Linked DNA regions of Homo sapiens. The gene in region 2 interacts genetically with the main gene of each other region. Each region holds a gene or a part of one and is shown on either strand. Other genes may lie near its edges.

Region 1 (3,500 bases), on a different chromosome or scaffold from region 2:
CAGATTCTTCTAGAAAATGTGGTGTCCCCACTGGCATCGATTGAATCTGAATTCTTACTAATACCACAAAGTGTCTCCCAAATTCCTTTTGAAGTCAATCCTGTGTTAAGGTTATCATGTAAACAAATTATTATTGCTGTCAAAATCCTGGGCCCGTGCCCAGAGGCAAAGGAAGCAAAGTACTGGCATGGAAGATATCTACAAGAGAGAAAGAGAAAGACCAAGGTGGCTAAAGATGAGACATTCCCATTGTCTACACTAAGAAGATCCCAAACCCTCTCAATCTTCCCCAGGCACTGATACTCACCTGACTGAGGTTGAAGGTCATGATGCTGTTGTCATCATACAGCAGGATGTTGATGGTATCTAATGCCCATGTGCTCTCTGCCAGGAGACCAGACTTGAGGGACATCATTACCCGCCATGCCTCCGGGGTTCCTGAAATAAACCTCCATGTCGTCTATCCACCAAGCCCAGGTTGGCTGGAGGCACCCCTAGGGCTGCCCCATCAGTGAAGCTACTCTGAAGATAACACAAGGTGGAAGGCAGTTTCTGTCTGGGAGATGAAACACACCAGCCCCTCATGGCTTCTAAGCTGTCTGTCTAGGACTTCATTGCATGGCAATGAAGGAGAACCTTTAGTTAGCTTATTTCTTCCTTTTCCAAAGTTCTTTGGTTCTATTTTAGTCAACACTGGACCAGATTCAACCTCATCCAGAATAGTAAGGTGGAGGGAACAATGGACAAGATGGAAAGGGGCAGATTAGGCAACCGAATGAGGAAGATCTCCTTACCAATGTCTTTCATTGTGAGCCGCCTCCTCTGCTTCAACACAGGCTGTGTGGCTTCAACAGAGCCAGGTGGGAAGGTGATATCCCGCCGAATCATGGGGGGCTGCACAGGGGCAGGTGCTATGTGCGAGGCAGGTACTGGGGGACCTGCCTTCTGCATTTTCATCCCAGAGTGCAGGAATGGAGACTTGCTAGGAGAGGTGCGGTTCTCCATTGGCCGGGGCAGGGGAGCAGGGCTGGATACCTGAGGAATGTGATTCTGCATGCTTGGTGGGGGCTGGTAGTTAGATGGAGGGGGCCTTGTCATGGGGGGCACAGGGGCAGAGGGACCATATGGGGGCTGGCGTGTGCCATGGGAAGGCCACGAGCCTTCGTGGTTGGCCCTCTGATCTGTGTGCAGCATTTCATCTGTTCGGTTCACGCCATGATAGGCGGGGCCCTGGGGGGCAGAGCCCGTGCTCTGCCTGTTGGCATAATTATAGGTCATGTCATTACGCCCCTGCCACATGGTGCCTTGCTGAGCAACCTCAGCTGATGCCTGTATGGGGCCGCCCATCATTTGTGGTGGCATGTTTTGCTGGGCATTGGTGCCAGGGGGTGCAGAGACACGGTCTCGGCCAAACTGGAATGGAAATTGGTTCTGGGGGCCGCCTGCTGGTCGGCGCTCAGTAGCAGCTGTGGCAGTGGCAGGATAGGCATTGCCATACTGGTTGTATACATCTTGCTGAGGGGAAGGCTGGGCAGCTTGTTGCTGGCTGGCAGGCTGGGGCTGGGCTGGGGGCAACTGCTGCTGCTGAGGCTGCCCCTGCCCAGTGCTGTATGGCACGCTGTACATCTCCCCTTCGTGCCGCTTGGCAGGAGGGCCATATGTGCCATCCATTGGCCGCTTGTAATTCTAAGGCAGAGACAAGCAGAGGGGAAGTTAATACTCTGCACTCAGGGACATAAAGCCCACAGATGCCAAGATGGCTACAACCAGATGCTTGGTGGACACAGACTCCAAGAAAACATGGGAATCACCTTAACAAATTGTCTTTTGAAGTTGTTTCCAAAAGCAACCACCACTCTTTCTTCCCTTCCCTTGCTTAAGTAGAAAAATATACAAAACCTAAAAATCAAAATAAGGTCTATTTCTAGCCCCTTCCAACTCCAAATAGAGAAGAGATTGAGGACGTGGCTCTTCAGGCAGGACTGGCCAGTCAGGTGAGAGAAGAATGCCAAAATATCTAAAGTGAGCTTCTTAGACTTCAACACGTTAGATTAGTTTACTAACTAGTTTTCAAGGCGAACCTGCATGCCAGTCCATTCCCAGCTACCCTCCTCACCTGCTGTTGCTGTTGATACATTGTAGTCTGCTGGCTGGGGAAGGGGCTGCCAGAAGGGGTGCCTTGGGTGGAGAACTGATTGCCATAGGAATCATGTCTATAGGAGGCAAAGAAACACAGGATTAGGGTGGGCAGTGGCGAAGCCTGATCCATAGCAGCACCGAGACCAGGCTTTACTCACCGTTGCTGCTGCTGCTGCTGCTGCTGCGGGGGGTAGCGGCTAGGAGAATACATCCCCGAGTCTGGGTTGGAAGGCATGAGATTCGGCTGTGGGGCCCCAGTGCTCATGTTTCCCTCAGGCCCTATTCCAGGCTCCGTCCTAAACAAAATTGGAGAGGCAGATTGAGCCCACTATAGCTTCAGGGTGCTGGGGGAGTGGACAGGAGCTGGGGTCATGCTTACCTCACTCTGTCATAAGGACCTCCATAGGGATAGTGCTGTCGTGGTCCCATCGCCACATTTCCTAGCCCAGGGCCGGCAGCACGACTGTAGGGGTCACCCATCCCGCCGTTGGGGCCCTGCCCTGAGGACATGAAGGGATCACTCCCTGGAGCTGAGCGTAGAAAGGCAAGCGGTGAACAAACTGGTAAGTTGACAAGCCTGGTAATCTACCCTTTGACCCAGGCCCTCTTCAGAGTTCAGGTTTGATCTCATTGTTTTCCAGACAAGTTCAAAACAGAGATCTAAAGAGGCCCCAACCAGCGAAAAGCATGTACTTATTAAGGGATGACAAGGTGAAGCCAAGGAGAAGACAAGAAAGGAGGTAAGGATGAAGAGGGGTAGTTAGGGCAGGAAATGCATTATCTCAGAGGATGGCTCCACAAGAACCCTGAGCCATTCTCAAGATTTCCCCCCATTTCACTGGCCCTGTCTTTACGAGCACAAGTTCAAATAGCAATCAGATCAGTCACCTTTCCTCATGCTGCCATAAGGATCCTTATTTGGCTCATAGGACATGCGCCCCATCATGTCAGAGGTATTCATACTGGGCTGATACCCAGGGTTTGGAGTCATGGAATTCCGCTTCTGGAATGTGGAGTCACTTCCATCATTAAAGGCATCCTGGATCCCAACTGAATTGCTCCTGCTCCAGAGTGAGGAAAACCAAGTAAACCACAAATAAACCAATTCCTCCAATATAACAAAGGACACGCAGGAGTCACTGGCTGGGAAGGCAGAGGCAAGGACCACCTTGGGCTGCAAGGAGTTCCCATGCACTTATCTTCAGCCATCCTCCCAACCATCTGCCCCTGCTCTTGGCCTTACCTCATGCCTGGCAATGGGGGGATCTGACTGTGTGGTGTGGATGCTGGAGTTGGTGGCTTTAAGTCTCCTCCTTCTGCCATGGAACTGCTGGTTGACTGGGGAGTCTGGGGCCCCTGCA
Region 2 (2,299 bases):
AAATGGAACCCTGAACAAACACTCTGGCATTGACTTCAAACAGCTTAACTTCCTGACGAAGCTCAACGAGAATCACTCTGGAGAGGTGACCCCTGCCCTTCTTGCCCTTCCCTCACTAAACCCCCATAAATTACTTGCTTTGTACCTGTTTTAAGTTTTTCCTCCAGTTAGTGGGCAAGGAAGTGGCAGCAACATTTCAAGCCTCCTAACCCCTACCTGTCCTGCAGCTATGGAAGGGCCGCTGGCAGGGCAATGACATTGTCGTGAAGGTGCTGAAGGTTCGAGACTGGAGTACAAGGAAGAGCAGGGACTTCAATGAAGAGTGTCCCCGGCTCAGGTAGTGCAAGGCGTAACCTGGAAGCTGCTAGTTCCAAGGAACCCTGAATAGCACTGAAAGAGATCTTTTGTACTGGGTCTCAACCACTCCCTCCCTCTTCTAGGATTTTCTCGCATCCAAATGTGCTCCCAGTGCTAGGTGCCTGCCAGTCTCCACCTGCTCCTCATCCTACTCTCATCACACACTGGATGCCGTATGGATCCCTCTACAATGTACTACATGAAGGCACCAGTGAGTAGGGATGTTGAATTTCCTTGGGGAGGAAATGGCAGAGAGGGAGCCTCTCTGAACTATTTGACTTTTGCCTCCTCTCAGATTTCGTCGTGGACCAGAGCCAGGCTGTGAAGTTTGCTTTGGACATGGCAAGGGGCATGGCCTTCCTACACACACTAGAGCCCCTCATCCCACGACATGCACTCAATAGCCGTAGTGTAATGGTGAGGCCACAAGCTCACTCCTGGCCCAGGCCCCAAAAGCCCTTTGCCTATCTATGACTTACCTCCTTCTATCTGTTTTCTCTTCCTCAGATTGATGAGGACATGACTGCCCGAATTAGCATGGCTGATGTCAAGTTCTCTTTCCAATGTCCTGGTCGCATGTATGCACCTGCCTGGGTAGCCCCCGAAGGTGAGTGAAGTCATCATGTCGGGAGGTAAAAAAGGACCACCTCAGAAGTAGTGGAAGGGGGCAGAGACAGGACAGGCAAGGGGGCCAGAACAGACAAGCCCTATCTCTCCAGCTCTGCAGAAGAAGCCTGAAGACACAAACAGACGCTCAGCAGACATGTGGAGTTTTGCAGTGCTTCTGTGGGAACTGGTGACACGGGAGGTACCCTTTGCTGACCTCTCCAATATGGAGATTGGAATGAAGGTGAGAGCACAACAGCATACATTTGTGTTGCGGGAGTGGTTGGTGATGGTGAAAATAACTGTAGTGGGCCTTGGCTCCTCACATATTTGTTCGGATATACAGTAATCCTGTCCCAAGGGCCAGTGGCTTCTCTCTACATGACAGACTCAAATTGTGAGGCTGCTTTTTTTCTTGTATTCGCAGGTGGCATTGGAAGGCCTTCGGCCTACCATCCCACCAGGTATTTCCCCTCATGTGTGTAAGCTCATGAAGATCTGCATGAATGAAGACCCTGCAAAGCGACCCAAATTTGACATGATTGTGCCTATCCTTGAGAAGATGCAGGACAAGTAGGACTGGAAGGTCCTTGCCTGAACTCCAGAGGTGTCGGGACATGGTTGGGGGAATGCACCTCCCCAAAGCAGCAGGCCTCTGGTTGCCTCCCCCGCCTCCAGTCATGGTACTACCCCAGCCATGGGGTCCATCCCCTTCCCCCATCCCTACCACTGTGGCCCCAAGAGGGGCGGGCTCAGAGCTTTGTCACTTGCCACATGGTGTCTCCCAACATGGGAGGGATCAGCCCCGCCTGTCACAATAAAGTTTATTATGAAAACAGGCTGGTGTGGGGACATGGGGACAGATAAGTACATTTAGGTTGGGTGGCTCAGGTGAAGTAGTGCGGCTTCTTCACATTGATGCCATACTCGCTGAGGGCAGGGGTCAAGTCCTCCATGGTTAGAGTGTACTTGCGGTCCTGAGGGAAGAGGGAAGAGCACCAACTGAGCACAGGAATCCCGGACTTCAATCCCAGATGGGTGACCCTGAGTAAGTCTTACACCTCCCCTACGATTCAGTTTCCCCAAAGGGGTGGCAGGATAAGCCTCCACTGTTGTGGAAGGTAATTACTGATTCATTAAGCCTCCCCTCACACCTTGCTCTTGCTCCGGGAGCTGCCGGAGGCCGTGCCCTTCATTTTGCAGTGCTGTAGGGCATCATTGGCAATATCTGAGATGAATTTCTGGGCAGCTAAGGAGATGAGCCGAATTCTAGAGAGAAAAAACTTAGATGAGAAGGAGATGGACAACATACTGCACAAGCACCCAAAACTAACCT
Region 3 (3,500 bases), on a different chromosome or scaffold from region 2:
GTGTTTTAAAAATCTTAAGGTTCGCACTTCTAATTAAGCCAACTGATGTTTCTTTTTCATTCTTATTTCCAATCTGTTACCTTTTTTTTTAATTTTTTAGAAATAGGGTCTTGATTTGTGACGCAGGCCACAAATTGTACCACTCCAGTACAGTGGTACAATCTCCATTCACTGCTGCCTTGAATTCCTGGGCTCAAGGGATCCTCCCGCCTTAGACACCAGAGTGGCTGGGTCTACAGGCATGTGCCACTGTACGCCGCTAATTTTTTAATTTTTCATAGAGATGGGGTCTCACCATCTTGCCCAGGCTAGTCTCGAACTCCTGGGCTCAAGCGATCTTCCTGCCTCAGCCTCCCAAAGTGGTAGGATTACAGGCACAAGCCACTGTGCCCAGCCTCCTTTCTGTAACTTTTCAGTCCTAGTCCATCCCAGCCGACCCTTTTCCTACCTTCCCCTCCCATGATCCCACAGTCCTTTCACCACCCTGACCTCAATCTCAGCATAGCACTGGCCGGCAAACACATGACCTCCATCTTCTACAATGTACTGGATTAACTTCCCAGCAGAAGGTGAGCGCATCACCGATGGGTCATTTTCCTTCTCAAACACACAGGTTTTATTGCCAATTGTGATGCGATATCTAGGAGACAAGTGGAAGTATGTAAGCTAAGAAAGCACCTCAGGATGTAAAGGAGAATGGTAGAGAATGTCAACCTTCAAAGAAAAAAAATCCTGAAAACTTTATTATACACACACACAGACATATTCACTGCATATTTGTTTACAATGTCAATTAACATAAATTTCCTTCAATAAGGATCAGATTAAATATAGTATAATCATATAATGGAATACCACATGACTATTAAAAATAACAGGTACCACCATTTAAAAAAACACACACAAAGATATTGATGACGTAATAGCTAACATTTCTTGAAGCCTAGCTATGTTGTGGCAATGTTCTACACATTTTCAACATGTTAATTTATTTCATTCTCATAACACCATAACTGGTGTTGAACATTTGTGAATTTCTTTTTTTTTTGATACGGAGTTTTGCTCTTGTTGCCCAGACTGGAGTGCAATGGCGTGATCTCGGCTCACCGCAACCTCCACCTCCCAGGTTCACGTGATTCTCCTGCCTCTGCCTCCCAAGTAGCTGGGACTACAGGCATAAGCCACCACATCTGGTTAATTTTGTATTTTTAGTAGAGACAGGGTTTCACCACATTGGCCACACCGGTCTTGAACTCCCAGCCTCAGGTGATCCACCTGCCTCGGCCTCCCAAAGTGCTGGGATTACAGGCGTGAGCCACCGCGCCCAGCCACATTTGTGAATGTATTTAAAGAAAAACAGTATGTACATGAGTGTAACTTGTATATGCATATAAAATTTCTACTCAAATATGTAAGAAACTTTTAACAATGGTTACTTATAAAAAGGGGAACTTATTTTTCATTGTCCACATACACTGGAGTGGTAGGGAGACATGTTTTTAATTATAAACACTTTAATACTCTTGATATTTTTGTTAAGTGCATGTACTATTTTTTTTTTTTTTAACTACAAATGAGTACCAAGAAAAGCCTGGGAAAATCCCAAGAGCTAGTAGCTAATAAGAGAAAAGGCTAACAGGATGACCAGCAAATGGACCTCAAACAGCCACTTACCTATCCACTTCCTCTTTCATATACGTAGTATAACTGCTGCCATCATAGGACAAGAGCAGTCCACCGTCACTCAGCCGATGTACATCTACTTCTACACATGAGCCATTCATGATCACCACATAGGAGTTGGGGGACTGTCGAGTCACCTGTAGGGAATGAGAATGAGGATCAGTGTGTCCCTTCCAGGTACAGCTCCAAATGAAATTTGAATGCTTCAAAAATACAGATAAGAAAGATCTGTCAGGAGGAAGAAAATTCATGGCACTGATGCTATTTGCATCAGTGTCTGTGGACATGGCTCAGTCCTGCTGTAAGCAAAGAGGGCAACCTTAGTTGATTTTCCCCAACTGTGGTTGTTCTCTGTCTCTCCTTTATCTCTTGGCAGTGTATGTGAAGTTGAAGAACAACAAAAAAGATTTTCATAGAACAACAAACGCTGCTTCAGGACACTGACAAAAATAATGACGGTAATTTCACTAATACCCCCATCCCTGCATTAAATCAAACTTTTTCTCCTGCCTCTCAACCTAAAGAAAGATAGCTAAAAAAGTAAGGTGCAAGCTCCAATGGGGTTCTGCATACCTTAAGTACATACTTGACTCCCTCATAGATAAGTTCAACATCTACTGTATTCAGAAGTGTATGAGCAGGAAGGACTTGACCCCTGAAAGAACGATGAGAGAGGAACTTACTACAAAGTTCTAACAGTTATAAGAGAATCTAAAACATTATTGATTGTAGCATTTCCTAGAATAACAAAAGACTAGAAACAACCTAAATACCTAAATGATCGTTTGTAAGGAATTGATCACATCAATTATGAATCTTACAATGGATTTTTTTAAATTAGGGTAAAATACACATTACATTAAATTTGCCATCTTAACCATTACAAAATGCACAGTTCTATAGTGTTGGGGATATTAACACTATTCTGCAACCAATCTGCAGGACTTTTTCAACTGGCAAAAGTGAAACTCTACACCCATTAACAACTCCCAATTTCGCCCTCCCCCCAGTTCCTGGTAACCGTCATTCTACTTTCTAGTTCTATGAGTCTGACTACTCTTCATACTTCATATAAGTAAAACCATATAGTATTTGTCTTTTTGTGACAGGCTTAATTCACTTGCCCTAATGTCCTTAAGATCCACCTATGTTTTAGCATGTGTCAGAATTTCCTTCTTCTTTAAGGCTGAATAATACTGTATTGTATGTATATGCCACATTTTGTTTATCCAGTCATCCATCAACCAACATCTGAGTTGCTCCCATCTTTTAGCTACTGTGAATAATCCTCCTATGAATGTGGCTGTGCAAGTATCTTTCAGACCCTGCTTTCAATTCTTTCAGAATACCCAGAAGTGGTATTACCAGATCATAGGGTAATTCTATTTTTAATTTTTTCAGTAATTGCAATACCATTTTTCAATAGTGGCTGCATCATTTTACATTCCCATCAAGAGTGCACAAGTGTCCCAATTTCTCTACGTACTTGCCAATACTTGCTATTTTCTGTTTTTTGACAGTGGGCATCCTAATGGGTGTGAGGTGGTATCTCATCATGGTTTTGATTTTATTTACTTAATGATTAGTGATGTTGCGCATGTTTTCACATGTGGAACAAAACATACAGACATTAAAAAGATGTGAACTAAAAAACACTTTAAAAAATATACTGTTGAGTTAAAAAAGCAAGGTAAATAACAGCTTCACAGCATGCTACCATTTGAGTTTTAAAAAACCAGGAGGTGGGAAGAAACAAATATTGCATGTTGATATGGTTCGGCTGTGTTCCCACTCAAATCTCATCTTGAACTGTAGCT

Evidence for each region. A genetic interaction does not mean that the proteins touch.
Region 1: changes in ILK (region 2) and ARID1A together harm fitness more than expected from each alone (negative genetic interaction), as found in Homo sapiens cells (one large-scale study listed by BioGRID).
Region 3: changes in ILK (region 2) and ACACA together harm fitness more than expected from each alone (negative genetic interaction), as found in Homo sapiens cells (one large-scale study listed by BioGRID).

The regions. Positions count from the first base shown.
Region 1 is NC_000001.11:26,772,515-26,776,014, reverse strand, and holds part of ARID1A (AT-rich interactive domain-containing protein 1A), read right to left. Parts: coding exon 3,383-3,500; intron 3,204-3,382; coding exon 3,028-3,203; intron 2,670-3,027; coding exon 2,519-2,669; intron 2,436-2,518; coding exon 2,298-2,435; intron 2,214-2,297; coding exon 2,117-2,213; intron 1,687-2,116; coding exon 795-1,686; intron 439-794; coding exon 308-438; intron 1-307. UniProt on the Homo sapiens protein: Involved in transcriptional activation and repression of select genes by chromatin remodeling (alteration of DNA-nucleosome topology).
Region 2 is NC_000011.10:6,609,072-6,611,370, forward strand, and holds the end of ILK (scaffold protein ILK), read left to right. Parts: coding exon 1-85; exon of another isoform or gene 86-227; coding exon 228-337; exon of another isoform or gene 338-440; coding exon 441-568; exon of another isoform or gene 569-652; coding exon 653-774; exon of another isoform or gene 775-864; coding exon 865-964; exon of another isoform or gene 965-1,076; coding exon 1,077-1,207; exon of another isoform or gene 1,208-1,390; coding exon 1,391-1,540; 3' UTR 1,541-1,799; downstream 1,800-2,299. Other genes in the region: TAF10 (transcription initiation factor TFIID subunit 10), read right to left, coding at 1,851-1,940, 2,118-2,232. UniProt on the Homo sapiens protein: Scaffold protein which mediates protein-protein interactions during a range of cellular events including focal adhesion assembly, cell adhesion and cell migration.
Region 3 is NC_000017.11:37,246,337-37,249,836, forward strand, and holds part of ACACA (acetyl-CoA carboxylase 1), read right to left. Parts: intron 2,339-3,500; coding exon 2,257-2,338; intron 1,821-2,256; coding exon 1,675-1,820; intron 641-1,674; coding exon 490-640; intron 1-489. UniProt on the Homo sapiens protein: Cytosolic enzyme that catalyzes the carboxylation of acetyl-CoA to malonyl-CoA, the first and rate-limiting step of de novo fatty acid biosynthesis.